Linked DNA regions of Homo sapiens: all the other regions are linked to region 1. The links come from fine-mapping of genetic effects on plasma protein levels. Region 1 holds a variant in brackets. A gene starts in each other region. All regions are shown on their forward strands.

Region 1 (4,397 bases):
CTCACGTATGGGCACCTGCTGGAGCTCCAGAGCCCCAGCTCCCTCACCCCCCGCCACCAGTGCCTTGGTCAGTGCAGTCCCTGAGGCCACGTCAGGGAGTGTTTCCAGACCGTGTCCAGAGATGCCCCAGTAGAGGTGACAGGTGACTTCACTCTTGGTTCTGGGACCTTCTGTGTCTGGAAGCGACTAACAGCTTGGGACCCAGAATTGCCTTCCCCACCCCCAGCCACGCAATTGTGGGCAAGGGGCTTGCTCTCCCAGCCCCAGACTCCACACTTAGGAAAATTTTAAATGGGAGTGAGATGAGCCTGTTGCCCAGGTGAGGCTAAAATAAGGGAGCAAGTAAGCACACCCTCCGCCAGAGCTGGACGCAGGCAATAACTGTCCTTAGGACCCTGATAACTGTGATACTTGGGGAGCTCAGGGAGGCCCCATGGGTCTGATTGGCTGCTGTGGTCACTTCTCCCCAAACCAGGCCAGCCTCGATGGTCAAATGTGTCTTACCCAAACAAGACCAAGACAAGCATTATTAGGAAAAGGATCATAGGTCGAAGTGCGTGGCATTTTGGTTTTCCTGGAAAACAGGAGTAGAAAAATCACATCACTCACCCTCCTTCTCTCACCTGCCCCACTTTACCTGTCCCGCCTTGTAATTCAGGCATCACACCCTGCGACGGGCCTTCATCTGCCAAGATGGTCCCTCTGCCCCACAGGTGATGCTCTGAGCCCCACCTGAGCATCTCCAAACCCAGTCCAGATCTGGCCCTCCTCCCACTCAGAGAAGAGGGAGGCGGTCTGCTCCTCCCAGCTCATCAGCCCGACTGCTCCTGCAGACTCTGAGAGCCACCCCGGCTTCCCATTGACCTCCTTCCACTCAGCACCCCCTTCCCCTGGGAGACCGGAATGAACCACACTGAAATGAGCACGTCGAGGTCACTGTCGAACCCACCGAGGGAGGCCAGGACAGCCTCATGGCCAGGCTGAGCCAGGAGCCCAGACCAGTTCCTGCCAGGGAGAGGAGCCACCAACTTCCCCTAGTATCTCCCTGCTGTCTCAGAGGCTCATGTTCTGGAAACAATCATTGTCTTTAAGGTGATTTTATGTATATTAAAGTCACGTACAGTAGTTCCCTTATCCACACCTTCGCTTGCTGGAGTTTCAGTTACCCATGGTCAACCAAAGGCCAATAATAGGTGAGTACAGTACAGTAAAATATTTTGAGGACAGGCATCGTGGCTCGTGCCTATAATCCCAGGACTTTGGGAGGCTGAGCCAGCAGAATTGCTGGAAGCCAGGAGTTCTAGACCAGCCTGGGCAACATAGTGAGAACTCATTTCTATCAAGAAAAAAAAAAAAAAAACAATTAGCTGGGCATAGTGGTGCATGCCTCTGGTCCCAGGAGGCTGAGGTGGAAGGATCACTTGAGCCTAGGAGGTGAAGGCTGCAGTAAGCCATGATCACACCACTGCACTCCAGCCTGGGTAACAGAGCAAGACCCTGTCTCTTAATAATAAACAAAACTACAACAACAAAAAACCCACAAACTAAGATATATACACATTTTTTTTTAGAGAGACCACATTCACGTAACCTTTATTACAGTATATTGTTTTTGTTGTTGTTGTTGTTTTGTTGTTGTTTTTGAGATGGAGTTTTGCTCGTTGCCCAGGCTGGAGTGCAAAGGGGCACCTTCGGCTCACTACAGCCTCCGCCTCCCGGGTTCAAGCAATTCTCCTGCCTCAGCCTCCCGAGTAGCTGGGTTTACAG[GCGCCCACCACTA/G]CGCCTGGCTAATTTTTTGTATTTTTAGTAGAGACAGGTTTCACCATGTTGGCCAGGCTGGTCTCGATCTCCTGACTTCAAGTGATCCACCCGCCTCGGACAGTATATTGTTATAATTGTTCTATTTTACTATTAATTATGGTTGTTAATCCCACCCGGTGCCTAATTTATAAATTAAACCCTATCATAGGTATGTGTGTACAGGAGAAAACATACTCTCTGTAGGGTTTGGTACTATCTGTGGTTTCAGACATCCACTGGGGATCTCGGAACCTATCCCCCGCAGGTAAGAGGGGACTATCGTTTTCACAAGGGCAAGCCTGAAAGGCGTCTATCTCCTGGCCCAGTTCCTATTCCTTCCCCCGAAATCAGTCCCTTTCAACTAATTCATCTGTTACTTCTTATCTTATAATGCTTGTGTGTGTTTACCTCCACCTTTCTAAGTCCTGTGACCACGGAGCGATTTATCTCGAATAGCTTCTTGAAACAGAAACGTGGGAGGCAAAACATTTGAACTTTACATGTCCTAAATTATTTTTTCCATTTTTGTAGTTGGTAGATCGTTTGGCTGTAGGGAAATCTTGGTGGAAATAATTTTCCTTCAATGTGGCAAAAATGGTTCCATTTTTTAAAACTTTGAAAATTAATTTAATTTGAGGGATAACTTACATCCAATAAAATGTGCCCACTTTAGGTATACGGTTTTGATGAGTTTCACACAATGTATGTACACATGTAATCACCCCAGTAAGGTCCCTCCTGACCCTGACAACCATGGATCTGATTCCCTGGCGTTTCCCATACACGGAATCCTCTGATACATGCTCTTTTATGTCTGGCCGCATCACACCGCATGCTGTTTTGAAGATTCACCTATATTGTCACGTGTATCAATCGTTCGTTCTTTTTCATTTCTGAGAAGCACGCCATTGTTAATCCGCCACAATTCATTTATTCTGTCTCCTATTGACAGACACTGTGGTTTTTTCACTGTTCGGGGCCACTAGCAACAAAGCTTCTGTAAACACTCATGTGCAGGTATTTGTGGACCTGTGTTTTCATTTCCCTTGAGTAAATACCAAGGAATGGAAAAGATGGGTCATATGGTAAGTGTATGTTTAACTTTGTAAGAAACTGTGTTCCAAAGTGGTGACTGAATTTTCCATTCCCGCCAGGAATGTACGAGAACCACAGTCCTTGCCAACACTTGATGGTCACTCTTTTATCCTTTAGCCATGCTAGTGGATGAGGAGTGGTATCTAAGTGTGTCCAATGACTAAGGAGGTAAATCATCTTTTCATGTATTTATTGGCCATTTGCTTGCTTCTTATGAAGCCTGTCCAGATCTTTAGCTCATTTTATTATTTATTTATTTATTTATTTACTTATATATATTTTTGGGGGGCACAGTCCCACTCCAGTTGCCCAGGCTGGAGTGTGGTGGCATGATCATGGCTCACTACAGCCTCGACTTCCTGGGCTCAGGTGATCCTCCCACCTCAGCCTTTTGAGTAGCTGAGACTATAGGCATGCACCACATCTAGCTGATTTTTTGTGGTTTTGGTAGAGATGGGGTTTCACCATGTTGCCCAGGCTGGTCTTGAACTCCTGGGCTTAAGCAATCCACCTGCCTCAGCCTCCCAATGTGCTGGGATTACAGGCATAAGCCACCTCACCTGGCCCTCTATTTTTATTTTTTTTAGACAGGATCTTACTCTGTCACCCAGGCTGGAGTGCAGTGGCACGATCACAGCTCGCTGCAACCTCGAACTCCTGAGCTTAAGTGATCTTTCCCCCTCAGCCTCCTGATTAGGTGGGACTACAGACATGCACCAACATGCCCGGCTAATTATTCTACTTTTTGTAGACACTGGGTCTCATTAAGTTGTTTCTCTTTTTATTATTGAGCAGAATTTATTTCTATATTTTGGATACAAGTCCTTTGCCAAATACAAATATTACAAATATTTTCTCGCCAGGCACAGAGAGACAGACACTGCATGTTCTCACTTATCTGTAGTATCAAAACATCGAAACAATTAAACTCATGGAGATAGAGAATAGAAGGATGGTTCGCAGAGACTTGGAAGGGTAGTGGCAGGGGTGAGAGGGTATGTAGGGATGGTTAATGTGTACAAATAAATAGAAAGAATGAATAAGACCCAGTATTTGATAGCATAACAGGGAGACTATAGTCAATAATAATTTAATTGCACATTTAAAAATAACTAAAAGAGAGGTCGGGCACAGTGGCTCATGCCTGTAATCTCAGCACTTTGGGAGGCCGAGGCAGGTGGATCACCTGAGATCAGGAGTTCAAGACCAGCCTGGCCAACATGGTGAAACCTCATCTCTACTAAAAATACAAAAACTAAGGCCAGGCGTGGTGGCTCACGCCCGTAACCCCAGCACTTTGGGAGGCCGAGGTGGGTGGATCACGAGGTCAGGCATTCGAGTCTAGCCTGACCAACACGGTGAAATCCTGCCTCTACTAAAAATACAAAAAATTAGCTGGGTGTGGTGGCGCATGCCTGTAATCCCAGCTACTTGGGAGGCTGAGGCAGGAGAATCTCCTGAACCTGGGAGACGGAGGTTGCAGTGAGCCGAGATTGCACCAC
Region 2 (4,397 bases), not on the chromosome of region 1:
GCTGTACCCAGATATTGGCAGAGGCTGAGGGGCACGGAGTGGTGAACTCTAGTCAGTCATTTCAGCCAACCATGGGATTTCAGAAAACAGCCGGCAGGGGTCCTAATGTTTGGGGCAGGAAGGGGAGGTGCGGGAAGGCACTGAGGGACCCCCGCACTGGGCGCCCCTTCCCCACCGCAGAGACAAGCGGCAGTTTCCACAGCAGCCGGCAGGGGGCAGTGCACCTTGCCTTTTCGAAGCCTCTGGGCGCTTGGGCAGCGCGGGGTAAAGAAAATCAGGAGGCTCCGCCCGCAGCTTCTACGAACAGGCCAGGAGTAGAGCCCCCGCACGTAGTAGGTGCTCCAGGCACGTCTAGAAGCCTAAAGGGCTTGGTCGATACATTTGAACTCCATTTTAGAGACTGGAAGGGAAGAAGGGGGCGTCCGGGCCCCTGCCAGCACCTTCCACCTTGGGGCCTTGTCAATGAACACTGCGTTAGCACCTACGACGTGCCAGGCGCCCTGGCGACTATTGGAAAACCCGGCTCCCCTCTCACCCCGTTTTCCTCGTTGGCGAGTCGGCCTCGCCTCCTCCTCCCGTCTCTTCCTCTCACCACACACACCCAGCCGCAGAGCGGGGGTGGGCGCTCGCTGTCTCCCTGGAGAACCAGCTCGTCGCAAACTTGCGGGGCTTGGGGACCCGCGAGGGGGAGAAGTCGGGAGAGGCCAGGGGTGCCCGGAAACAATCACGAGAAAGCCGGGCGAATGCCTGATGCAGGGACGCGGCGAGCCAGTCACTGCCCTCAGGGTCACGGCTGACTCCCTCTGCGGGACTCGCCCAGCCCGCGAGACGCAGTGACCTGCCCAACCCCCACCCCCTTGCGCGCTTCTGGGTGCGCACGTGTCCCCTCGCCCAACACACCACCGAGCCCCGCGCATGGTACGGCCGCCGAGGACCCTAGCGTAGGAGGGAGGAGCGAGTCAGGGCTCCAGCTGACGAGCAGAGCCAGACGATCCCCACACGCTTCCTGGGAGACCCGGCTGCAAGGCCAGGCTAATGCGCGCTCCGACGTCTCTGTGCCAAGCCGGGGCGCAAGCTCAACCCCCATCTCAAGTTCAGCCGCGCTTCCTCCCGCAAGGTCACGCTTAAACACTCGCGCAGAGAAAGGAGGAGCGGAAAGTTGCGCCACCGTCCCGATTCCAAACTAACTGTACCCTCACCAGAGCGCCTCGCCCCAGGGTCACCGCTGTCCGTCCCCGTGCGCTCCCAGAAGGGGTGGCCCTGCCCCCACGCAGGTCACACACACGAGAGACACAGGCAAGTTGCTAACTTTTGTCAGATTATTTCTTGGGAGCTGCGACGCCTCACGGGGTTGGGGCGGATTCAGAGTTTCGAGTTGCCACTAACACGACTCCGGCCGTGCTCTCCTTGGCCCACCCGCGTCCCCCACTGTCCGCCACGCCGCGTTCAGCTCTCTTGTCCCGGGTGTCAACTTCACCCCCAGATCCGGAGCAGCGCGCTCTGACGGCGTCCCCGGGGCCGATAGCCACCTCCCGGATCTGCGCCTGCTTGCAGCGGATTGGGGGACTCGATCCGGATACTGTCCCACGGCCGCTCGTCCAGAACACTGGCGGCCTCCGCGGTGTCCCAGCCTGTGACCCCAAATCCGCTCGAGAGCGCCTGAGCCCGGCCACCCAGCGAGGTCTCCTCCCACGGGCGGCCCCAGCGGAGGAGATCCCAGCCCGGCGCCGGGTGCAATGTCACTGGGGCTGCTTTCGGGAACCGCTGCCCGGGACTTGGCGTAGGTTCCCCACAGAGCTCCAGGCAGCTCCTCCAGTGTCGGCCGAAGACCCCTAAGCCCGAACCTCCACCCCGACCTTCTTCCTCTCCCAAAGCCCTGGGTGGTCGCCGCTGCCAAGGAAGGGGTCTCCCTTCGAATGTCTTCCACTAGAATCCCGGGGTCTTCAGTCCCAGCTCCACTGTCACACCCTCCTAGTCCCCTCCCCACCCCTTCAGTTCCCGGGTCCAGACAATCAACCTTCCACTCCGAGAATCCACAGGAAACTGCCCGAGCCCCAACTCAGGCGGACGCAGCCCCCGCGCACCCCGAGCAGGGTTCGCCTCCGCGCGCGCACTCACCACGGCTGGAGACACGCTGGAGTTTCCGGGATTTGGGCATGAAGGGGTTCGGAGGAGAATACAGGGGTGTGGGTGTCCCGGACACTTGCCCCCTTCCCAGCTCACATCGCCTCTTCCTTCTCTCTCCGCTCTTCTTCCTCCTCCTCCTCCCTCCGGTCTAGGGCTCTTTGTCTTTGCAAAGTGTCGAAACTGTCTGGCATAGTGGGCTCCGCCGGCGGAGGCTGGAGCCGAGGAAGCGAGGAGGCGGGATGAGGGTGGGAGAGGGCTCGGGAACACCTTCCCCCGGGTGTAACGGGAGTGAAAGGCGGGGCGACCGAGGAGGGGCCGCCTTCCCTGGCCGGCCGGGGCCGGGTGCCAGGGCGCGCCAGAGCCCAGCCACCGCCTCCCCTGCGCGCGGCCCTCCCCTTCCTCCGCCCAGTGCCCGCCCCTCCCGACTCTGCGCCTCCGTTCGGCCCCGCCCACCCCAACTTGGCTCGGCTTTCCCTTGGCTCCGGGCTTCCTGCAAGCCGAATTTAGCTCTGCCAAGCCACGTGGACCGCAGCGGGCTCGGCAGAGGCCGAGCCTGGGAGACGCCGGAGGCGGCGGCTGCGGCGCGGGGACCTGATCGGCGCCCCGAGAGGAGCTCCCCGCTCTCTGGACGCGGCCCTCAAGCTGGCGGGGCTAAGGAAGAGCGCCCGGGAGGCCCGGGAGCCACTGGGGTCCGTTTCAGCAGGAAGACGGGCACGCACCGAGAGGATGGCAGTGCCCAGAAGAACTCGAGTCGGGGGCACGGTGGGGAGAAGGGGCCGATCCCCTGCTGGCGACCGGGCAGAGCCACCCACTTCCTCTAAGGGCGCGGGACTCGAGGTGGGATTTAGGGAGGGGGAAGGGAGGAGCGTGGGCTGGACGACTCTTGCGGCCAGAACCGCGTTCAGAGCCACAGAGCCGGGCACTGCGGCCGGCCCTGGTCCCGGCCCCGGCCCTGGCCCAGCCCTTGCCCTGGCTCGCCTGCCGCCGCTTTTTCCTTCCAGATGCGGAGGCTGCGGCTGGAGCTTGGGGTTTGCGGATTAGGCTTGCAGTTATTCAGCCCTCCCTCTTTTACAGGGAAGCGGGGGCGGTGGAGACTTCTTTTGCTGAAAGGCAGAGTGCAGCGCTTTGATGCTAAATGCAGTACACAAGTCATGTAAATCTGGTTTTACGGTTCTTAACCCCTTACTGAGACTACCTCTTTCGCAACTTTTCGGAGGAATGTTAGAGGAAAGAGGCACAGTTTGCCTTTGGGGTCATTGCATCCTTCCAGCGCCCCTTGCTCCAGCTGGAGAGAGATCAACCTTTTGCAGTGGAAGGGGAGAGTCCCCCAGCCTTTGTTTCATCAGACGGCTGCTGTAGTACAGGGATTCAGGCCAGGGCCCGCATGGCCGGACTTCTTGGTTCAAATCCTGCACTGCCACTCAACGGATGTGTGAGCTTGGGCTAGTGACTGAACCTCCCAGCCTAGGTGACTCTGTGCCTCGGTGTCCTCATCTGTGAGAACCGACCTAAGAAGTGTCTGTCTGATAAAGCTGTTGTGATGAGTTAGTGAATTCGTACACATAGAACCTTTAGAACTGTCTTTGACATGTAGTAAGTCAGCTGTGTAGATGGTGGGTTTCTCCAGTGTCAGGTCCCTGCCCACAGCAGGAAGATGACCTGTGCTAGAAGATGGGGGCTAGGGTGTTGGGGAAGACTTCAGGGACTTGGGAGAGAAAAGGAGAAATATTCAGAGATGAGAAAAGTAGAAGAAAAACCAGCTTTTAAAAGGGGGAGGAGAGAGAATGAGAAAAATAACTACTAGAAAGGGAAGGAAAAGATGAATAGCCTTTTAGGTACTTCGGGACCTGCTCTGAGACCTCTTGCCTGACGCCCTTGGTTTTTGATAGAATTCTAGAGAAGGGGTGAGCCCTTTTGTCTGCCTGGACACATCCTGTGGGCTTTCCTCTTTCTGAAACTCAGGTCAAGGTGTTCACTGCATCTCCAGATTGCTTGTGTGCATGGGAGGAGGGGGGCAGAGAGTTCTGCTTACATCGGCTACTGTCCCCTCCACCAGCAGCGTCTTCCAGCAAAGAAGAGCTTCTAACATGCACCAGACTTTTAGCTTTGGCTGGGAATATCGTCTGGGCCAATAAAGAGTTTTTGGATGAAATAACAAAAGTGTTGTTTATTGTATGGATCAAATAATGTATGGGAACATATTCGAAAAATAGAAAATGCTATACTCATATAAGACTATGCTACTATATCCTAGTAGATTCTGTGGAAAG
Region 3 (4,397 bases), not on the chromosome of region 1:
TTTATTTTTTATAGAGACAGGGTCTCACTCTGCTGCCGAGGCTTCGGTTCAATGGGGTGATCATAGCTCACTGCAACCTCAAACTCCTGGGATCAAGTGATCCTCCTGACTTAGCCTCCACAGTAGCTGGGACTACAGGAGCATGCCATCGCACCTGGATAATTTTTCTTGTATTTTTTGTAGAGATGGAAAGGGGTTCTCACTATTTTGCCCAGGCTGGTCTTGAACTCCTGGCCTCAAGAGATCCTCTCGTCTCAACCTCTCAAAGCTCTAGGGTTACAGGCGTGAGCCATGATGCCCTGCCCGTATTTATTTATTTTTATTTTATTATTTATTTATTATCTTTTTTTTTTTTTGAGACAGGGTCTTCCTCTGCAGCCCAAGCTGGAGTTCAGTGCCCAGATCATAGCTCATGGCAACCTGGAATTCCTGGGCTCAAGCGATCCTCCTGCCTCAGTTTCCCCAGTAGCTGGGACTACAGGTGCACACCATGATGCCCAGCCTGTTTTGTTGCTTTTTTTTTTTTTTTTTTTTTTTTTTTTGAGATGGAGTCTTGCTCTGTCGCCCAGGCTGGAGTGCAGTCATGCGATCTCGGCTCATTGCAACCTCCACCTCCCGGGTTCAAGCAATTCTCTGCCTCAGCCTCCCGAGTAGCTGAGATTACAGGTGCCCGCCACCGTGCCCAGCTAATTTTTGTTTTTTTAGTAGAGACAGGGTTTCACCATCTTGGCCAGGCTAGTCTTGAACTCCTGACCTTGTGATCCACCGACCTTGGCCTCCCAAAGTGCTGGGATTACAGGCGTGAGCCACCACAACTGGCCCCAGCTGTTTCTTATTTACATTGTGATTTCAGTTTTGAAAATTTTCTGGAGATTCTAACTGCTTTTCTTTCTTTGCATACTCTTTTTTTTTTTTTTTTTTTTGACAGGGTCTTACTCTGTTGCTCGTGTTGGAATGCAGTGGTGTGATCACAGCTCACTGCAGCCTCAACCTCCCAGGCTCAGGTGATCCTCCCATCTCAACCTCCTGAGTAGCTGGGACTACAGGCATGCACCACCATGCCCAGCTCTATGGATGCTTTTTCTTGACTCTCTTTAAGTATATTAGGTAGTACTCTTTGTATCCTGAATTATCTCTGTTTCCTCCAATGTCAAATTTTGTTTGTTAATTTTGGTCTTTCTTTCTTTTTTTTTTTTTTTGAGATAGGGTCTTGCTGTGTTGCCCAGGCTGGAGTGTGGTGGCGTGATCTCAGCTCTCTGCAACCTCTGTCTCCTGGGTTCAAGCAATTCTCTGCCTCAGCTTCCCGAGTAGCTGGGAACTACAGGCGCCTGCCACCACGTCCGGCTAATTTTTTTGTATTTTTATTAGAGACAGGGTTTCACCATCTTGGCCAGGCAGGTCTCGATCTCCTGACCTCGTGATCCACCCGCCTCAGCCTCCCAAAGTGCTGCGATTACAGGCGTGAACCATCGCGCCCAGCCAATTTTGGTCCTTCCTTCCTTCCTTCCTTCCTTCCTTCCTTCCTTCCTTCCTTCCCTCCTTCCCTCCCTCCCTCCCTCCCTCCTTTCTTTCTTTCTTCCTTTCTTTCTTTCTTTTTGAGACAAGGTCTGTTGCCCAGGCTGGAGTGTAGTGGTGCAATCACAGCTCACTGCAGCCTCAAACTCCTGGGCTCAAACAATCCTCCTACCTCGGCCTCCTGAGTAGCTGGGACTACAGGCGTGGGCTAATTTTTTAAAACTTTTCTGTAGAGATGGGGTCTTGCTCTTGCCCAGGCTGATCTTGAACTCCTGGCCCCCAGCCTTGGCCTTCTGGGATTACAGGCGTAAGCCACCTGCCGGACCAATTTTGGTGTTTCTTTTGCATGCTGCTGGTCCTCCTCAGATGCTTGGCAATCATTGGTAATGATGGGCTTCAGAACGTGCTACCGGCACAGTGAGTGTTTTAAGCTGAAGGAATTTGAGAAAACCGCAGAAGCCGAAGGATCTTTCTTACCTTCTCCTGCCCTTCTTCCCTGAACCAGGTCATACAACCTGGAACTCCCTGCCCTTTTCCTGAAGAAGCAAATAACAGCCTCCTGCGAGAGGCGCCCTCCCTGCACCTGGGGGAAAGGAGGGTCCTTATCTCTGAAGACACAGGGACACAGAAGAATCTGAACCAACAGGCCTTCCTGAGTTCCCCACCTCCCCGCAGGAGGTGCCCGCACACGCATAGCCCCGTCGCTCCCGCGGCCGCACGCAACGGACCTCGCCCTGGTGGTGCACGCCCGGGCTGGGCGCTCAGAGGTCGGGTGGGCGCCCACTCCGTTCGCTGCGCGCACAGCGCCCGGCGAGAGGCTCGGAGTTTGATCACACACAGCGTCCGGCTTCCTGTCCCCAGCGCCCCCTCCCGCCCCGTTTCCCTTGCCCCTCCCTCTCCCCGGCCCGATCCGCCCGCCGGCTCCCCCTCCCCCGATCCCTCGGGTCCCGGGATGGGGGGGCGGTGAGGCAGGCACAGCCCCCCGCCCCCATGGCCGCCCGTCGGAGCCAGAGGCGGAGGGGGCGCCGGGGGGAGCCGGGCACCGCCCTGCTGGTCCCGCTCGCGCTGGGCCTGGGCCTGGCGCTGGCCTGCCTCGGCCTCCTGCTGGCCGTGGTCAGTTTGGGGAGCCGGGCATCGCTGTCCGCCCAGGTGAGGCCCCGCTGCGCACCCCTTCTTGGGCACATCAGGAGCTGAGACTGCAGAGGGGCCGCTGGGGGCCGCGTGGGCTGAAGGCAAGGGGAAGGGAGGATGGGTGGAGGGTGAGATGTCAGGTGGAGCGGCACAGGGTGACGCTCCCTCCTTCCCAGCAGGAGCCTGCCCAGGAGGAGCTGGTGGCAGAGGAGGACCAGGACCCGTCGGTGAGTGGGCGTGGGCGCGGTCTGCAGGCTGCTGGGGCATGGGAAGTGTGCACAGCCGAGGCTGCAGGTGTGTGCAGCTGTGCCAGCCGTACTCGAGGTGTGTGCAGGGTGTGTGTGAACACAGTGCGTGCATGGGTGCGTGTCTGCAGGGGTGTGTGTGCGTGGTGACAACTCTGTGTGAGGGGTTTGTGCTGGGGTTGTGCCACCTGAGTCTGAGGTGTTTATTGGCTGGGGGTGACGTGGTTGTATAAGATATGTGAGTCTGCGTGGAAGAGGGGTGCGGTTGTGTACAGGGTGTGTATCCTCTGTGCGTGGTGACTGGGTGCGGGCATGTGTGCAATGTGCCAATTGAATGCAGGGTCTGCGTTGGTTGTGTGTGTGGGTGGGAAAGTGTAGCTGGTCTAGAGGAAAGGGTGAGGACTGGGGCCTGACTCCCAGCTTCACCTTTGCCCGGGGCCCCAGCTGTAGTTGGCTGAGGGGCTTAATCTGTCCCTGACTTCTGTGTCTATTGCTGGCTGGTGGCTCTCCTGACAGGCCCCGTATGTCTCACTTTATATCTCTGGGAGTCTGTGGTTGAACCCTGCCCTAATTCCCCTAGGAACTGAATCCCCAGACAGAAGAAAGCCAGGATCCTGCGCCTTTCCTGAACCGACTAGTTCGGCCTCGCAGAAGTGGTGAGCATCCCTCTATCCCAACCTCAGGAAGCGGGCAGAGCAAAAACCATTATCCACAGGGAGAAACTGAGGCACGGAGGGTGAAAGGAGTTCAGAGTCATGCAGCTAACCAGCCAAGACTCAAACCTAGGGATTCTCGCCCTCCTCTGAAGCTCCTTCTGTCATATGGATGTGCTCCTTCAGACCCTACCCCAAACAGGAAGGCAGGGTGGCCATGAGTTAGAAGAACTACTGGGATCCTGATGGAGACTAGGCCTGGCAGTCAGAGGCCTGGGCCCCGGTAGGCAAAGAGACTTAGGAATGGGATGATGGGGTGGCCGGATGACCACGTGTCCAAGTCGGCATGCAGTTGTCCTGGCCCCCACCTGTTATCTCGGTGTGATTAATAGCAGCTTCCCGTTTTGCTCTCAGCAGTATCCCAGTGTGGATGACAAATTATAGTCACTCTACTTACTGAGGAAGATGAGGCCTGAGATTCTAAGGCCAGGAGTCTGGACAAGAATAAGGATGCCAGGGTTCCTGAGAGGGGAATGGGGCTGGGAGAGTTGCTCTGGGACCCCCACTAGGGCCCGCTTTGCTCATCTGTCTTTCCTTGATCCTCAGCACCTAAAGGCCGGAAAACACGGGCTCGAAGAGCGATCGCAGCCCATTATGAAGGTGGGTGATGGGTGAGCCATACCCAGGAGGAGAGGGGCAGGTGGCAGAGGGTCAGGGCAGGTCTCACCAGCCTTTTCCTGTACTTTACAGTTCATCCACGACCTGGACAGGACGGAGCGCAGGCAGGTGAGACCCCATCCCCCGACACAGCACTGGCCTCCTGGGAAAAGGGCCCTTGAAAACCTTTGACCTC
Region 4 (4,397 bases), not on the chromosome of region 1:
TATTTTTTTGAGACAAAGTCTCGCTCTTTGGCCAGGCTGGAGTGCAGTGGTGCCATCTGAGCTCACAGCAACCTCCTCCTCCCGGGTTCAAGCAATTGTCCCGCCTCAGCCTCCCAAGTAGCTGGGACTACAGGCGAACGCCACCAAACCCAGGTAATTTTTGTATTTTGAGCAGAGAAGGGAGTTTCACCATGTTGGCCAGGATGGTCTCCATCTCCTGACCTCGTGATCCGCCCGCCTCAGCCTCCCAAAATGCTGAGATTACAGGCTTGAGCCACCGCAGCTGGCCAGATTTTCTTAACAAGAACTCCAACTAACCGCCACCCTTCATTGAGCACCTACTGTCTCCCAGGCACCTGGGGGCGGGGCTGGGGGGGGGTGGGCCCGGGGCTTTTAGACATTATGTGATTGACAGAGTCGACTCAGCAAACCCGGTTGGTCCACTCTAGCACCTGATTTTACATGCACCCGTTTCCCCATCAATACATTTAAGAGCTTCAATTCCTTCCCTCCCTGACCCCTTCCTCATCACGACTGATTTCCTTTTATGGAGAAATCTGAAACAGTAACCCAACAGATATTTTTAAAGCAGGGCCTCAGACCCCACAGTGGGAAACCCAGGCTATATTCCTTAAATGATTGCGCCATCTTCATCTTACAACCCCAAAGGTGCCTATTGTCAAGCCCAAGGAAGATGCTGCCCACACGTGGGAGAGGGGCCCATGGGGTCAGGGGGAACGAAAGGCTCACTCAAGGTCAAAGGCTCCTTCATGAAGCGCAGGGCTGAGGGGAGAGGAGGGGTCAAGGAGACAGCAGACAAGGGACAGTAGTCCAGATTCTTGGGCAGAACGGGACACACAGAGGCTCAAGTCCTGGCTCTGGCACTGACTTTAGGGCAAGGGAGTTATGCGTCCTACATGAGCCTCAGTTTACTCCTCTGTGAAATGGGTGCATAACTGTATCTGCCTCCGGGGGCCACTGTGACAGTCCAGAGAGATAAGATAGACTAGGCTGTGGCGTGCGGTGATACCAATTACAATAAATAGGGTAAAAAACCGCCACTACTTCTGCTACAATTGCTGCTGTTGCTAAGGCTTTAGAATTTGCCTCCGGACATCTGGAAACAGAACCCAAAAGGGTAAACATGGACCTAGAGTCCGGGGTGGCCACGGGCCTAGATCCAAGGTAGTTGGGTAGAGGGGGGCTCTGCAGTCCCTGACCCCAGGCAGCGTCACCCACCGGTGAGGCACTCAGGGCGCTTGGCTCTACCTACACCATATGCGCTCGGGGGACTTGGCTGTTCGGGGCTGTCCAGACCCAGTGACCCCACTTCCCGGCCGCGACCCAAAGATGACGCGTGTCGTGTCTCCGGAGCGACTTGGGCTCGGAGGGGCCGGGGCACGGGTCGGAGGCGCGCTCCAGAGAGGAGCCCGCGGCGGGGCGGGCACCGGGGCAAGGTTCCTCGGGCTCAGGTCGGGCACGCAGGGCGCGGAGGCGCGAGCCCGGGCGGGCAAAGGCCAAGGTCAGAGGCTTCCCGCTCCCCCTACGCGATGCAGGAGCTACCGTCCTGGCCACCGCCCCCCGCCCCTGGGGAGGGTTCTCAGTCCACAAGCGGGGGCTCGATTTTGGCTTGGGTGGGGTCCTCTCCCCATCGCGGCGCTCCCCGCCCACGCCCGCGCCCCCAGACTCACCCTCTCCGGGGTACAGGTGGCCCGCGGCGCCCAGTAGCAGCGCGGCCACCGCCACCAGCAGCGGCGCGGCCGCCGCCCCCCGCCGGCCCCCGGTGGCCATGGCTGCGGGAGCGCGGGGTCTCCTCGGATCAGAGCGCGCGGCGCTGGCCCGCGGGGGTCATGCTCCGAGGCGGCCACCCAAGAGGCGCTGGGGGCCGCGCGTCCTTCTCTTCCACGCCCGCGACCCGCGGGCCGCAGCCCCCCTGCCGGGGAGGGCCCAGAGGCAGCCCCGGGAAGGGCGCGCGCGGCTTCGCCAGCTACAAATACTGAGCGGAGGCCCTTGCGGTGGTGGCCCCGACCCCCCGGCCGCTGCGGCCCGGGCCCCGTCCCAGGATCTCGGGGCCCGGAGCTCCGCGCTGCGCCCGGGACTGTCTCTCGGCTCTCGGCCCCGCGCGCTCTGGGTCGCGATCTGCGGGCTCCGGGACAGAGGGACGCGCGGACCGACGGACTAGCTGACTGGCGGGCGGGCACCTGGGCTGGCGGGTGGCGGGCGGGCGGCGGGAGAGAGGGCTGCTCGGGCCCGTAAACAACGCGGCCCGTCAGCTGGGCCCCGTGCGGGCCGCGGGAAAAGGCGGCGCGGATCTGGCCTAGGAAGGGACTCTGCGCCCGGGAGAGGCCCAGGAGAGGGAGGGAAAGCTTGCAGGGGAGGGAGGTGCCGCCCGGCCCCGCCCCGCCCCGCCCGCCTCCCCGCCTCCCTGTGCCGGGCCCCGCGCGGGAGGCCCTGGGCGCGCCGGGACCGAGGGCGCGCCCCAGATCCGCGCGCCCTACAGCCCCGAGTCTCCTCCAGTTTCAGACCCCCGGAGGCGCCCCACAGGCCCGACGCAGCGGCACAGATCCTTTCTCTACCATTTTGCTATTTTGTTCATAGTGGGCTTTGGAGGATTCCTGTTGATTTTTTAAAAAATACTGCATTAAAATGTTTATTTTGGTGACTCGAGGTGGTTTTGGTTTCTTTCTTTTTTTTTTTTTTTCACTCCCTTAAATTTTGCACCCCAGGCGAGTAGTGTCTCACTCGCCTTTCCTCAGTCCGGGCCTGGCCAGCGACACTCGTCCCAGAGCGCGTGGGCGCCCCCAGATGTCCCGCCCGCGAGTGCGCCCCGGCCCAGGGGCGAGACCCAAGCCAGGCCCCTGGGGACAGCCACGTGCCCGCGTGCCCAGTGCGCTCCCTGTGTTCAAGTTGGAGAAATGACACCTGGAAAAATGTGCAGACGCTTCTGAAAGGGCAAAGACGACGCCAAAGAAGACGCCGGAGACCTCGAATAGGGCGCAGGTGGACATCTCTGATTTTCAGCAGACCAGCCTGTATGTGTCTGAAGTCTAGCAACGACATTCACCAACAAGGCGGGACAGCGGTTCCACCTACCTTACTGCAGGAGAGGAAGGGGCTTTCAGTATAGGAAAGCCAGAACTCAATGGGAGGAGGGTTCCTCCACCCCTCACTCCTGTGTGGTCTTGGACCAGGGACTTTTCTGTCTCTGGGCCAGTTTCACTTGTGTAATGGGTTTAATAATACCTGCATGCCAGTTCTGGGGAGGTACCCGGGAAAGAAAACTTAAGAAAGCGCCCAGCACAACCCTAGACCCAAGGCATTCATTCTTCTTTCATTCAATAAACAGTTTGCTAGGAGCTGGACCCACTGTTCATGCAACAGGCCAAACCTATTCCTGCCTCTGGGCCTTTGCCCCAGCATTTCCCTTGCCCGTAACACTCCAGGATGGCTTCATCTCTGAAGTGCCATCCCTAACCATATTTTTGCAAATCCTCCCCCCAGTTCCGTTTCCTTCTCTCTCTCTCTCTCTCTGTTTTTTTTTTTTTTTTTTTTTTTTTTTTTTTTTTTTTTTTTTTAGATGGAGTTTTTCTCTGTTGCCCAGGCTGGAGTGCAATGGCCAGATCTCAGTTCACTGCAACATCACCTGCCTGGGTTCAAGTGATTCTCCTGCCTCAACCTCCCAAGTAACTTGGATTACAGGCATGCGCCAGCACACCCAGCTAATTTTCTGTATTTTTAGTAGAGACAGGATTTCACCATGTTGGCCTGGCCGGTCTCAAACTCCTGACCTCAGGTGATCCACCGGCCTTGGCCTCCCAAAGTGCTGGGATTACAGGCCTGAGCCACTGCGCCTGGCCCCTTCTCTCTCATTTTCATAGCATGTTTACCCCACTACCTGCAATTGTTTGTTTTTTTTTTTTCTTTTCTTTCTTTTTTTTTCCTTTTGACAGAATCTTGCTGTCACCCAGGCAGGAATGCAGTGGTGCAATCCTAGCTTACTGCAGCCTTGAACTCCTGGCCTCAAGCAATCCTCCTGCCTTGGCCTCCCAAGGTGCTAGGATTACAGGCATGCGCCACCATGATTGGCCTTGAAATTCTTATTCGTTTTCTGTGTCTTCTCCCCTTCCCGTGAAGGCGGAAATCTTTTCGGTCTTGTTTCACTGCTTAAACCCAGTGCCTGACAAATCTGTTGCTTAATAAATATTTGTTGAGTGGGAGAATCAACAAGCAATAAGTAATAGGGGATTTTTCAGTGAGCAAAATAAACATGACCCATTTCCTTATGGAGTTCACAACTGAGCCAGGGAGAGAGCCCTTAAAATAATTGAGTGTGTAATGAGCTGAGGGAAATGGGAGGTGCATAGGGAGGGGTTTGCTGAGGACATGGGGTTTTTTGT
Region 5 (4,000 bases), not on the chromosome of region 1:
TGGGAGAAAATTCTAGGAGTGAAATTCTGACCTTTCTTTTTTTTTTTTGAGACAGAGTCTTGCTCTGTCACCCAGGCTGGAGCACAGTGACTCCATCTCTGCAACCTCTGCCTCCCAGGTTCGGGTGATTCTCCTGCCTCAGCCTCCCCAGTAGCTGGGATTACAGGCCTGCGCTACCACGCCCGGCTAATTTTTTTTTTTTTTTTTTTTTGTATGTTTAGTAGAGACAAGGTTTCACCATGTTGGCCAGGCTGGTCTCAAACTCCTGACCTCAAGTGATCCACCCACCTCAGCCTCCCAAAGTGCTGGGATTACAGGCATGAGCCACCGGGCCCGGCCTGACCTTTCACCTAAATATAGTTACGCTAAACTATAACCTTTTGATAAGGGTCTGGAATATTTTATCATGAACTCTGAGAAGTTTGGATTTCTAAATACAAATTGGAAATATTTACACGAACTGAAACTATAGTTCCAACTACAGCTAAATCGTTATTTTTGGCTCTTTAGCCTAAGTTATTCAATAACCAAACACTAGAATCCAGTGACAAAGTAGCAAAAGGAAAGATGTGGCAAAGGAAACCATTATACACCTATCCCTTGACGTTATGAAATGATCGAATTCATGTCAAACATTTGGTCATTCTGCTTATACCTTCGTTTGTGAACAGATGCCAGGCAGTAGTTACCAATCCAAGGTGAGGTGCTCAAGTTCAAAACCTGACCTTAGTTGTAAAAGTGGGGTTTTTATTTGAAAGAAAAACTTAACTTCCACAAGTTCTATTATAAAGAGTCTACAAATTTTCCTTTATTTAAAAAAAAAAACCCTGAATTTGAAAAAGGCAACCTTATTTATTTACTTCTCCTGTTTCCAAATTCTTGTTACTCCAAGAGTACAGACAGTTATTTACCTAAAATGCAAAACCTCCAAAGAGTTCACACGGTGGCTGGCACTCAGGCACACACATGTCAGTGCTCTACTGGGACACCTGGTACATGATATCCCTATTAAAGAGTACACAGTACCTTTAAAGAGGTCATTAAACAGAACACGGACAAATTTGCCACGCTCACATCCTGAACAATACATTTTGTGAAAAACATTCGCTAATTTAGGTTCTTCCAACCAGAAGAAAAAAAAAAGCCAAGTCTCCCACAAAGTGCCCCCAAATCCACAGCTGAGTGAAGGTCATAAAGAGTTAAATGAATGTAAACCAGGCCCTATCATTCGTCTCCTCCAGAAAAAGATGAAAAGACATTTCTGATGGCCCCAGGTGCTCTCCCACGAGGAGACAGTCTTTCATTTGAGGTTCTGAAGCGGCCTCACCTCGAACCCATGCGGGATCTTCCAAGAGTGCAATTCCCACAGCTCCACTTGCTCAAGGAAGTCTCGGTGCACAGAAGGAAGCCTGCAGCCTCCCAGTACCAAGAAACCGGCAGGGCAAGTGGCAGAAGCCAGCTCTCGGGTGAGAGTCCTTACTCCCTGTTGCATTCGTTCCCCAAAGTTTTCGAATTTTTAAAAAGTTCAAACAAGGATTCGAAGCGCAGGACAGACCCTTCCCCTGGATCCCAACGCCCTTTCGGCTCCTCCGCGGCCCCCGCCAGGCAGCGCCGGCGCCCGCCCGCGAGGAGGAGGGTCCCGCAGGTGGGCGGCCTCCTCAGGCCGGGGCCTTCTGGGACCCCCAAGTGCCGTGCAGGACGCCACGAAGTTGCGCCCGAGCCCGCGGGGTCCGGGGAGCCGCTGCCCGTGACAGCCGCGCTGGCTTGGGAGGCTCTTCGGGCGGCCGACGCCTCGGTGGGGCCGCGACTCCCGTCAGGGAAGCTCTCCCGGCCCGGTGCCGCCTCCTACGCCCGGCCCGAGCCTCCCACGGCTGGGCTCACGGGGCATCTGGCCGCCGCCGTCGCGCTCCCAGCTCGGACTCCAGCCCCGGCGCCGCGACGCTGCCCCGGCCCCGACCCGGCCGTCGCGAGCTGTCCTCCACCCCACGCTCCCCGGTCACTCACCCCGAGGCCGGGCAGCAGCAGCGTCAGCAGCAGCAGCAGCCGCCGGGCCGGCATGGCGAGGACTCGGCCCTGGCTCCGGGGGCGGTACGGACAGAGGACGGGGCGGGGGCGCCGCGACGACAGCGAGGCGGTGACCGAGCCTCAGCGGACGCAGAACTGACTAGGCAGCGGCGGCACCCCCATTCCCGGCCCTATAAGCGCTGGGTGCCGCGGCTTCTTCCGGTCGGGGCGGAGTTGCGGGCGGGGACGGGGCGGGGCCAATCTAGGGGCGTGTTCGGGGCGGAGATGGGGGCGGGCCGAGGGCGTGCCCCGGGCGGGGATGTGGGAGGGGCTGGCTCGGGGCGGGGCCGAAGGCGGTGCTGGCATCTGGCTGGCTTCGCTCATGAGGCGTCGGCGGCTGTAAAGGACCAGGCCTCGGCATCCAGCGTCTGGGGGCGCTGGGGGATCGAGGCGCGAAGCTTGTCTGTGGCTGGGAAAGACCGGCAATGCCCCACCAGGCCGTCCCATTAACCCTGCCGAGGGACCTGCCGCGTCAGACTTCATCGGGGAAAAGGGCGGGACACGGGCGGTCCCGGGTGCCTAGAAGCCTCCTTTTCGTCTTTCCGCCGTGGTGGAATCATCCGCAAGGTTTACCGAGGCGACCTCCGGAGCGAAGGTTTCAGCAGCTACCGGAGGCTTCCAGCAAACACGGCGCAGCTGCCCCGCGCGGCAGTCGCAGTGTTCACAGCCCTAGGGTTCTCCAGCTGTGCCTCGTCTTCTCTGGGGCCCCTTTCTTCCTTTTCCTTGCCCTCAGGAATTCCCCTCAAGTCATATCCACCAGCCATCACTTCCGCTTGGAATGAACCACGGCCAAGTCACTCACCAAAAATTATAAGGAGGAAACCATTTCGGCCACTTGTGTCACGTGCGTTGATGTGACACGTGTGGATGTGAAGTTTGAGATGGTCTGCGTCACAACTCGTTGGAGGGAGTGGGTGGGTTGAGGCCTCCTGCAAGGTCTATGTGAGGGTGTGGAGTACTAATTAGAGTTAAAGAGCTCGGCAGCTGTTTGGTCACTGGCACTGGCCTCCACTGAGAGGGACATGGGTAGGGAGGACACGTCTTTTGCAAGGAAAGACAGTAAACTGAGATTTGGAGCCCAGGGAAAGGTATCTAACTTATCCTAGGAGAAAAAGAAAACGGCTATGAAATTCTCTAATTTTTCCTGACTTGCTTATATGAGAGCCTAAGATTTTTCAGGTTTGAAGGAAAAGAATAAGCACTCCTAGACAAAACAACAAAGTAGTAGTGGGGGACTGGCCAAATGTCCAGTCTGTGTGCATTGTGGTCAATCTTATCCAACTAAAACAGACCAAAATGACAGTAAGCCCAAATCCTGCAAATAGAGCTCCCCATTCCTAACCCCCTAGGCCTGGATTACAGTGAAGGGACTAAGTCCTACCGCATGCTGGAGACTCCAACACATCTCTGTAAGAGTGGGAAGAATCTTGGCAACTGTGAAAACAGTAGAGACATTTTGAAAAGTGTTACCTGAATGTCTAAATGCAAACAGAGGTTTGGGATTGGCAGAGAGATGTACTGAGAGGCCCAGCACTCCTGAGCAGTATAGCCGGGCTTCCAGGGAGGCCTACAGCCCTGAAACTGGGAGGAGCTCTTTATTTCTTGACCTTTTATCTTTTCTTTTTAGAGATGAGGTCTCACGGTGTTGCCCAGGCTGCTCTCAAACTCCTGGGCTCAAGAGATCCTCCCCAGTAGCTGGGACTTCAGGTGTGCCCCACGACACCTGGCTTGGGAGGACCTCTTTAGTGATTACCTGTCCAGTTTGCCAGCTGACAACAGCATCTGTTAGACCCTGTATACTTGACTTAAAAGAGAAGCTTGACTGAAAAATGTCACTTTCACATCCCCCCCTCTGGTGCTTTTTCTCAAACAGAGTAAGTCTAGGAGGGGAAAATTTGCTGTACTGGAACTCTGGCAGCCCTTTTACAATTCAAAA
Region 6 (4,397 bases), not on the chromosome of region 1:
GGGGCATGTTGCCAAGGCAAAGGACCCTGGGCTACGTGGAGGTTGGCACCACTTTTCAGGAGGGAACTGCAGTTAGCTTCCTGAAGTGGGGTAAGTGAACCTAGGCCCACTCCTGTCTTTTAGGGATGTCAGGGTCTAACAAGATCTCCCCCTCTTCTCCCACCCTCCTCGCTCCTTTTCCTCCTCAAATCTATCATCCATTCCTCAGCCTGTGTTGCTTCGGCACTTCCCGGGTGAAAGTCTATATTGTGAAATCTGGGGAGACATGTGTTGTGTGGAGCCTGGCAGCCTGGCGGATTTATAAAAGGCAACTTGTTTTTTCACATTCATGTGGAAAAACAATGTTCTGTCAACCAGCTGGGAAGCTAAGGAAAAATACACAAACAAGAAACAATTCCACATGCTCTGGAGTCAGCCTAAGATTGGGGGGGTGAGGGCCCGGTGTGTGCAGCGCGAGGCAGCTGACCCTTGACAATCTCCTAAGGGCTATTTCTTGGGGTCCCCCATCTCAAAGGGCTGGGAGCCTCTAGGATTTCTAACCAGTATGGCTGAGGGTCTAAAGGGACGTGTCTTGGTGCCTCAAGGGGGTGCCTCACATCTTCCTGGAACGCCCAGCTTGATGCTGGGAAGCAGACTGGAGGGGGTCCCACAGAGCTGGAAGCCCTGGAGACGCAGGCAGCCCTGGCGGGACAGTGGCAGAGAAGGTGGGAAGCTCTGCCTTTTCGTGGGCCTCGTCCTGCACTTGAGCAAGGAGGGCCTGGCCGAGGCCATACCTGCTCGCCATCCTCAATCAGGACTATGCTTTGACTTCCTAAGGAAGTTCCCTGAATTTCATGCAATGCACCAGGAGAGCAGAGAGAGAGTCTAGGGTCTCATGTAACGTTCTCCATAATGATGAGCCCCCCACTCCGCTCACTTTATTGGCTTTGAACACTATGCCCTTAAGACCTGTTTCCAAATGAGTCCTGTGTCTTAAGACCTATTAATGTAGCAGACCTGGCCACTCTAGGAGAAAATGCTCTTTCAGATCTATGATAACAAAAGGGGCCAAAGAGGCCCTGCAGGGGCATGGAGGGAGGCAATAGTGAACTCAAGCTTCGTTTCCCCCGGTCCTTCCTCCTCCTCCCCTGTCAGGCCAGTGCCAAGTGAGAGGCAGAGGAAGGATGGTACAAACTGTGCCGACACCGTTTGAGGGACCGAAGGATGTCTGCCTCCTCCAGGCCAATTCTCCATTCACTGAGGTGCAGCGATCCAGCACCCCCAGTTCAGACAGCTGGCTATATCCCTCAAGACCCGAGGGTCCTTTGGGTCCCTGGAAGAACCCAGGGTCTGAGGCACCCTCTCATGCCCCCAGCAAACTAAGCTGGGCATTTGCTTCTCCGTGAACACCCGGCACCCTGCTCAGCCCTAGCAGGGGAGAAACTGAAACTGGCTATGCTCGGGCTGGGGAGGGTGCTGGGGAGATGACCCTGATCGTTGGCCCCTGGGATAAGGGAGGTCTGACCACAGGGTAGATGGGCACTCACCAGCCAGGGATCCCACAGTCAAGATGGTCAGCAGCGTCCTCATCGGGGCTGGCACAGAGCCCTCCCTTGGCCTCTACTCTGCCGTGCACAGAGAGAGGGCTGGGAGTCTTGGCGCCCTGGCAGCTGGCTCCACCCGGGCATGGGGCGGGGAGAAGGGGGTGGGTGGGACCTGTGCCGGTGGGGAGCAGGGGTACAAAGGTGTCCTGGCCCTGTGTGCTCTGGAATTCCAGGTTCTGGGCGGGATCTAAGGGAGTTCCCTTCCGACTTGCAGAAAACAGCAATAGTAACAGGCTGGCTTGTTTATCTGGTCCGGTGGCTGATTCATCCCAAGTGGTTTATCAAGGAGCTGAGGGGCAGAAAAGGCAAGAATAATCCACGATATGCAGCCTTATCAAAAAGCAATTTGGCACTGTGGATCAAAAGCCTACACCACATACATATCTTTTGCTTTAATAATTCTATTCCTAGGGGATTTACCCTGATGAAAATAACTGGACAACAGAGGGGGAAAAAAAAGGTCCCAGAATGTTTCTTGCAGCAAAGGAAAAGCTGTGACTCCTTTGCTTTTCTGGCAGGAGGAGATTGAGGGCACCCGATGCTCCTCCTTGATCCTCCATATCAAGGCAGGTCCCCACGCTTGGGGTGGGCTTGGGAACAGCTCTCCCCTAGAGAGGCCGTTGGGGGTGAGGAAGCCCAGCCGCTCTTACCTTGAGCCTTTGGGTCTAGGATCTGCAAAAGTTTAGAAAAAAAATGGAACTCAAACTTCAGTGATTCTTTCTGCTGTGCTAGAGATGGGGCTGAACTTCATGAATGGGGCTTTGGTTCGGGACGATGAAGATTCAGGCTGCTCTCCCATCATTTTGCCACGTAGGGCAGGATCTGCACATGAGCTTCGTGTGAATGAAGGGACAGGTGTTTAGGAAATGGTTTTCTCCTTCCTGCAGGGCCTGGAGAAGGTAGAAGGGCCCTGGGGCCTGGACTCTGGTCAGGGTGGACACGATTGGAGGGTCCTGCCCCTGGGGAGAGTTTGCCTGGCCCCAAGCACACAAAGGCAAGCGAAATTTTAGCAGGGATCCTGCCAACGGGTTGGGTGTAATGGGCTGTGATATGCTGAGATCGGTGTTTAAGTTTTTCTTTCCTGAATTGTAATTGTTATCAGCCCTGATTGCTAAAGTTTGTTTGACAAAACAGCCAAATCTAAGCTGTGCTTTGGAGGAATTAAGGTAGGGCCCATGCCAGTCATTTCCTGAAACTGCAGGAAACTACATTTTCTAGACTCCTTTATCAACTGCTTTCTGATAGGTTTAGCCCCTGGGGGAAGACTGGGGAGGCAGAGATCAGAGCATTTCTCCCCTCGTTTTCTGTTTGAGTGGCTTCCCCAGCAATGGCCATATCCCTCTGCAGTTCTGGCTCCCTCTGGACAGTCCATCAGCCAGGCAACCCCTTATGTCTTTCTTGTTCCTGTTTGGAGGCCAGCTCCTGGCTCTGGCAACACCTTCTCCCCTCATCTTTCCTTTCAGTTGGTGGGATGGCACAGCTTCCTGCTTTGGGGAAATCTCTGAACTGTCTGTCCTGATTAGTGTCCCAGCTCCTTCATCCTCTGGGTGACGAGCTCCTTTACATTAAAGTCCCTTGGTCTGAAAGACTGGAGAGGTTTCTGTGCTACTGAATGAACCATGATGGATAGAGGGTTTTTGATGACTTTGATGACAAGGCAGTGTGGGGAAGCTACAGCGAGAAAAACAGGTTACAAGGGACGCTTAGGGAGAAGAGCAGGCTTTGGTCCCAAGTGGCTGGCCGAGAGGACAAGACGCAGCCCCAACAGGTCTGTGGAACACGAAAGTGTTCCTTGGGGCCTCTCAGAAGCACTGGAAGAAGGAACTTGATGGAGGAAAAGGGCATCCTGTAGTTTCGAGGGCCTGTGGTTATGTAGGAATTAACGGGAAGGAAGACACCTGGATTGCTAAGGAATGTGGGAACACCCAGACTTCATTTCTAACAGTTTAAGAAAAAAATAGGTGGGGCGTGGTGGCTCATGCCTGTAATCTCGCACTTTGGGAGGCCAAGGTGGGCAGATCACCTGAGATCAGGAGTTCGAGACCAGCCTGGGCAGCATGGCGAAACCCTGTCTCTACTAAAAATACAAAAATTAGCCGGACATGGTGGCGGGCACCTGTAATCCCAGCTGCTCGGGAGGCTGAAGCAGGAGAATTGCTTGAGCCCAGGATGTGGAAGTTGCAGTGAACCGAGACCGCACCATTGCACTCCTGCCTGGGCGACAGAGCGAGACTCCGTCTCAAAAAAAAAAAAAAAAAAAAAAAAAAGGAGAAAAAAATGAAAACAACCTCCATGTCTGACAATAGAGGTTTGGTTAAAAGAATAATGGTATGTCCACCCAAAGCAAGACAAATGCAGCTTCCAAAATAATGCTGGAGAAAAATGTTTCGTGACCTGGTAAAGACTCATCATATTTTTTCAAGTGAAAAGAGGCATAACATAACCTATGTACAGTACCACCCTGGCTAAAACGCACACCTGCACACGCAGAGCAAACTGCGTGTCTTCATGGATATAGATGAAAACACTAGGGGCGTTATCTCTGGGTGGTAGTGGAATTGTAGGTGATTTTTCTTTTCTTCCCTTTGCTTATCTGCATTTCCTAAAGTTAATATAGGAAATACACTAATTTATATTAAGGGAAAGCAAGGTTACTAAACATAACAAATCGGCATTAAAGACAAGCCTTTGTTGGGGCTCTATCCTCCTCCTGGAATGCCATTTCCACTCCCTTAGCCAATTCCCTTTTCCTCGAATCTCACCAAGACAGTTTTCTTCTGCGATATGGCCCTTCTTGATAACTCCAGCCCATAA
Region 7 (4,397 bases), not on the chromosome of region 1:
GATGCTCCAGAGCCAGAGCGCGGCGGCAGGGAAGGCGCTCCTCCGGGCCATGCTGCTCAGGACCTCCTCGCTGCCGGGAAAACTCCTCGTGCCGCACCTACGCAACCTGGCGCCGTCAGATACTCTGCTGCGCTGCAGCTCCCTCAGCCAGGGCTGTTCCCGTTTAGACGGCTGGGCGCGTCGCCTCCCGGCCTGGGTGCCAAGGAGCCTGCGAGAGCAGGAGGAGGGGGCAGGCAGGACGCGGGAGGAGGAGGGGGGGACCAGCGGGCGCGAGTCGCGCAAGAAGATGGGGCGCGGGCGGGAGTGGGGGCGGCAGAGACGTAAGACTGGCAAAGCTGGCGAGGCCAGCAGTCAGCGGGGCAAATAGAGCGAGAACAGAAGAGCGGGAAGGGCTGGCGCGAGCGAGGTGCGAGCGAGGAGTGGGGCCCGCGAGGCCTGGGCGGCCGCCACTTGGGGGCGCTGTGGGGCCCCCCCGGGGGCGGGGCCGCGAGGGACCCCCGAGGCTGCATTCACAGTGCGGTGCGCCCAGTGGAGCGCCCGCGAAGTGGGCGTGTAGGGCTGGCGGACCCGGAGAAGGGCACTCAGAGACCCCTGGGACATCACTCGCCACCTCCTCGGGCCAAGGGAGGCTTCGGGGGAGGGAAATGGGGAGAGCAGACAACGCTGGGCTTGACTGAGTGCTGATGATGGTGATGGTGATGGTGATGATGATGATGATGATGATGATGAGGTGATGACTCCTGTTCCTCCTCCGGCGCTCACTGAAGGCGCAAATTGCCCTTCGTCTCCCTTTCAGCCAGTAGGATTCCTCTCTCCGCCAACCCTATGCGCTCCGTTCTGCGATAGGCTGGCACTTTGCGCGCTCCCAAGCAGTTAAAACTCGAGGCTCGACTGTCCGATGGTGCCGATGGCAGGCGCTGGCCTTGGCTCGAGGCGCAGGGCGTCCAGCTGGTACTTGCCCGACACCCAGCATTTGGGGATTCCCGTCTGTCTCCCTGATAACCCGGCAGTGCCCGGAAGAGTGCCCTGGGCCCTGGACGATAGCTGTACCTGACCCTCCGGGGTAGGGCTCCTCTAACATCGTGGATATCTTCACGTTTGCTGATATTTTTTAAAAGTTGCTGAATTCGGCCGGGCGCGATGGCTCACGCCTGTAATCCCTGCACTTTGGGAGGCCAAGGCGGGCGGATCACCTGAGGTCAGGAGTTCGAGACCAGCTTGGCCAGCGTGGTGAAACCCCGTCTCTACTAAAAATGCAAAAATTAGCTGGGCATGGTGGCGGGGGCCTGTAGTCCTAGCTACCCGGGAGGCTGAGGCAGGAGAATCACTTGAACCGGGAGGCGGAGGTTGCATTAAGCCAAGATCGTGGCACTGCACTCCAGCCTGGGCGATAGAGCGAGACTCCGTCTCAAAAAATATATAAATAAATAAATAAAATAATTTTTTAAAAGTTGCCGAATTCACAGGTGCGTGGGGGCAAAACCAAGGCTCTGGCCTCGTCTGTGAGAAGCATGCTTGGCCGGCAGTGGGCTGCAGCATAACCTATCCACCTGGCCCAGCAGAAAGAACTGATTTTTGCCTCCTGCCTAATTCCTCGGATGCACAAAGAAAACGGAAGCAAAAGGGTTTTGTTTTGTTTTGTTTTTAATTAAAAAACTTAGCCTTCGGACTCATAAAAGGTTCATTTACTTGTGTTTGTTCTTTAGTACCCGAAGCTGTGACAAATGCCTCAAGGATCAAATGTCTGGGGCTGGGCGTGGTGTTTCAATCAGTCCTTTATAGAGTAGCAGATGCCTCAAGAGGGAAAAACAAACAGAAACAACAGAAGAGATGGTGGACATGTGCAGGCATCAAGTTAAATCAGTGTTAGGTTCTGAGAATATAGATTTCCAATGAGGAAATATTTGCAGCTATACAACCAACCAATAGAAAAAAAAAAAAGGAAAAAAGGAATTAGACAAGAAGTCTATGACTGATTTGAACTTGCAGTGTCTTAATTTTTAAAGTACTTTTATTTTAAGTGCTTACTTAATCCTCACAACTCTTAAGTAGGTACTACTATTATTCTTATTTTACTGACGAGGAAAGAGGGCTCAAAAAGTCCAGTAAGTTGACTGTGGATATCCAGCTGGTAAATGAGAGTAAGGGTTCAAATCCCAGACACTCTGATTTCAAAGCCCATTCTCTTAGTAACTTATACCTCATACTGATAAATAAATCATAATTAAGTCTATTTGCATCCAAAGCTTCACAGTGATTCTTCCTTTACAATAAAAATATTTACCTGTTTCCCAACATTGCATTATTTTTTATTTCTATGAATATTCATGTATATAATGTATGAACATTAGGCTACTTTTAAAACACTTTAATGTTATAATGCCAGTGTCACCCAGGTAAAGATAATAATTTCACAGCACAATAGGCATTTTCTTTAACTCGGAGCGAGTGGTTTTAACATTTTTTTCTAGTTCTGCGCAAACCTCTATGGCTCTTGGTGCAAGGACGCCCTCTACAGGTTTTCCTAATCAAATACTAATTGAGAAATATTCATAAAATTTATTTTTTGGTGCAAGAAAAAGAGGAACTAAATTCTCTCCTAACTCGGTTTCCTCTGAGTGAGGTTCTTCTGCAGCAGTTGAATTTGGTGTTGATAACAATGGTAATCTATCTTGCTATAAGGACGTTTTTTTTCTTCCAGAATGGTTGTTTTCTGTTTACTTCTCTCCAGCACAGGACACTTAGAAAAATTATATTTTATTAGAGATAGATAAAGAGAAATGCTATTTAAAAAATTTTTGATATAAACTCGTTTGGTTATTAAAGGGGACAAAGGAACACATGTTTTGTTATACAACAGTGATTTTTAAGGGTAGCAGCGTGGTTCTTTTTGTAGGGAGGTCTATCTCTAAGAGATGAATCAGGCTTGACTCTCCTTTCTGTTGTTAAGGAGCAGTTATGTAGCTATTTCATTAAGAATTGATTTAAGTTTTTAAATTTCTTTAAACAAACATGTGACAATATTTACTAGCATATGATAAAAATTTGGAAATAATGTGCTAGGCAAGTCAACTTCATTTCGTTTGAAAATTCTGCCATTTATTTTCCAGTTCATTATGCTTCCTTTCCTTGTGCGATTCCCTCTCATCAATTATGTGTGCAGGCAGCTTCATTTATTTGTTCATTAACTCATTTGCTTATTCAACAAAGATTTATTAAACAGCTATTATATGTAAGACACTGACCTGGAAATTATAGTACAAATAAAACATGATCATAGCCTTCAAAGAGCAATAGAGCTACTAAAATAAGTAAGACAAGTACCTAAACAACCATAATACAAGGCAGAATGTGGTGATTGTTGATAAGGCAGAATGACTGGAAATTCATAGAAGAAATCTTGTATCTAGAATTCTGCACATTTGTTTGTTCATTCATTCATTCAAAATATATTTACCCGGTGTCTGATGTTTGCCGTATATAAGCACAGGGGATAGAAAGGTAAGTAAAAAGACAGCCCTGCTGTCAAAGAACTCTCAGTCTAACAAGGGAGTGTGTTGAGAATAAACAATAGAGAGGAATGAACGCCATGGTGGGAAAATGCACAGGGTATTTTGGGACTCAAGGAAAATCCTTCGAGGCAGACTGGGTTCTGGGAAGACTTTCTAGAGTAGAGCATACTTGAGCAGTCTTGAAGGTCAAAGGGGAATTGAGCATGCAAGGGGGAAAGATAAGGAACATCCATGCATAGACAGTGGCAATAGTGAGAGCAAGAGACATGAGAAAGAATGGCACCATGCAGGATCTGCAGGTGCTGACCTGTAGTATGATGAGCCTGGAATGGGAGAGGGAGGGAGCAGCTGGGGATGAAGCCCAAAATGTAGGTAGGACCTGGTTATGGAAGATTGTGCTGAGAACAATTCCAAATAATTTGTTTAGAGACGCTGTCCTCAAAGAGGCGAGGCGTAACTCCCCACTCCTGAAGTGTGGGATGTGCAGAGTGACTTCCTTTTATAGCGTGCAGTGTGGAAAGTGGGGAAAGTAACAAACCTGACAAACACTACTTCAACTAGGTGATCAAGATCATCAACAGTGATGAGTCATGTGATAGTATGTGCCCTTGATATGATGTGATGAGAATGGTACTTTACCTATGTGATCTTGCTCCTGAAAACCCATAACCCCAGTCTAGTCACAAGAAAAATATCAGAAAAACCCAACTGAAGGACATTCTACAAAATTCCTGATCAGTATGCCTCAAAACTGTCAGTGATCAAACAAAAAAGGGAAGTCTGAGAAACTCGTAGCCAAGAGGAACCTAAAGACACATGACTACCAAATGTAATGTGCTATCCTGGACAGCATCCAGGAATAGAAAAAAGACATTAGGTAAAGCT

Direction of the effects. Alleles are on the strand shown, and positions count from the first base shown. The strength of an association depends on the size of the effect and on how common the allele is.
For the plasma level of the protein whose gene starts at base 2,313 in region 2, GCGCCCACCACTA is the low allele of the variant in region 1 and G is the other (strong association).
As copies of GCGCCCACCACTA replace G in region 1, the plasma level of the protein whose gene starts at base 2,410 in region 3 goes up (strong association).
For the plasma level of the protein whose gene starts at base 2,314 in region 4, allele G in region 1 goes with a lower level than allele GCGCCCACCACTA (strong association).
For the plasma level of the protein whose gene starts at base 2,173 in region 5, allele GCGCCCACCACTA in region 1 goes with a higher level than allele G (strong association).
For the plasma level of the protein whose gene starts at base 1,627 in region 6, allele GCGCCCACCACTA in region 1 goes with a higher level than allele G (strong association).
For the plasma level of the protein whose gene starts at base 165 in region 7, allele GCGCCCACCACTA in region 1 goes with a higher level than allele G (strong association).

Evidence for each region. PIP is the posterior inclusion probability: the model's chance that the variant is causal. The UK Biobank Pharma Proteomics Project read protein levels with antibody pairs (Olink). The fine-mapping took linkage between variants from a reference panel, not from the people measured, so its PIPs are less certain.
Region 2: it holds the start of ST3GAL1, and the variant in region 1 is fine-mapped to the plasma level of the ST3GAL1 protein (UK Biobank, PIP above 0.99).
Region 3: TNFSF12 starts here. The variant in region 1 is fine-mapped to the plasma level of the TNFSF12 protein (UK Biobank, PIP above 0.99).
Region 4: it holds the start of INSR, and the variant in region 1 is fine-mapped to the plasma level of the INSR protein (UK Biobank, PIP above 0.99).
Region 5: it holds the start of ERN1, and the variant in region 1 is fine-mapped to the plasma level of the ERN1 protein (UK Biobank, PIP above 0.99).
Region 6: it holds the start of IL22RA1, and the variant in region 1 is fine-mapped to the plasma level of the IL22RA1 protein (UK Biobank, PIP above 0.99).
Region 7: WIF1 starts here. The variant in region 1 is fine-mapped to the plasma level of the WIF1 protein (UK Biobank, PIP above 0.99).

Annotation. Positions count from the first base shown.
Region 1 is chr9:133,261,595-133,265,991 of GRCh38, forward strand. It overlaps the pseudogene ABO. Among named protein-coding and RNA genes, the nearest start is that of OBP2B, 55 kb to the left of the region's middle. The variant GCGCCCACCACTA/G (reference allele first, on the strand shown) is at 1,768.
Region 2 is chr8:133,569,575-133,573,971 of GRCh38, forward strand. It overlaps ST3GAL1 (ST3 beta-galactoside alpha-2,3-sialyltransferase 1), which reads right to left and starts at 2,313. Exons shown (of 10, transcript NM_173344.3): 1 at 2,119-2,313. ST3GAL1-DT (ST3GAL1 divergent transcript) reads left to right here and starts at 998. Exons shown (of 2, transcript NR_186509.1): 1 at 998-1,296; 2 at 1,484-4,282. RefSeq lists enhancers at 73-142, 100-953, 313-532 and silencers at 2,323-2,812, 3,003-3,062.
Region 3 is chr17:7,546,649-7,551,045 of GRCh38, forward strand. TNFSF12 (TNF superfamily member 12) reads left to right here and starts at 2,410. Exons shown (of 7, transcript NM_003809.3): 1 at 2,410-2,664; 2 at 2,826-2,873; 3 at 3,472-3,547; 4 at 4,151-4,204; 5 at 4,295-4,330. The coding sequence starts at 2,506. TNFSF12-TNFSF13 (TNFSF12-TNFSF13 readthrough) reads left to right here and starts at 2,410. Exons shown (of 11, transcript NM_172089.4): 1 at 2,410-2,664; 2 at 2,826-2,873; 3 at 3,472-3,547; 4 at 4,151-4,204; 5 at 4,295-4,330. The coding sequence starts at 2,506. RefSeq lists silencers at 2,305-2,494, 2,525-2,604.
Region 4 is chr19:7,292,101-7,296,497 of GRCh38, forward strand. It overlaps INSR (insulin receptor), which reads right to left and starts at 2,314. Exons shown (of 22, transcript NM_000208.4): 1 at 1,692-2,314. The coding sequence starts at 1,791. RefSeq lists an enhancer at 756-1,514 and silencers at 1,496-1,555, 1,606-1,745, 1,886-2,165, 2,186-2,575, 2,716-2,895.
Region 5 is chr17:64,127,972-64,131,971 of GRCh38, forward strand. It overlaps ERN1 (endoplasmic reticulum to nucleus signaling 1), which reads right to left and starts at 2,173. Exons shown (of 22, transcript NM_001433.5): 1 at 2,005-2,173. The coding sequence starts at 2,058. RefSeq lists silencers at 1,684-2,133, 2,224-2,353 and enhancers at 2,774-2,973, 3,024-3,073, 3,978-4,000.
Region 6 is chr1:24,141,514-24,145,910 of GRCh38, forward strand. It overlaps IL22RA1 (interleukin 22 receptor subunit alpha 1), which reads right to left and starts at 1,627. Exons shown (of 7, transcript NM_021258.4): 1 at 1,527-1,627. The coding sequence starts at 1,569.
Region 7 is chr12:65,121,141-65,125,537 of GRCh38, forward strand. WIF1 (Wnt inhibitory factor 1) reads right to left here and starts at 165. Exons shown (of 10, transcript NM_007191.5): 1 at 1-165. The coding sequence starts at 51. RefSeq lists a silencer at 326-485.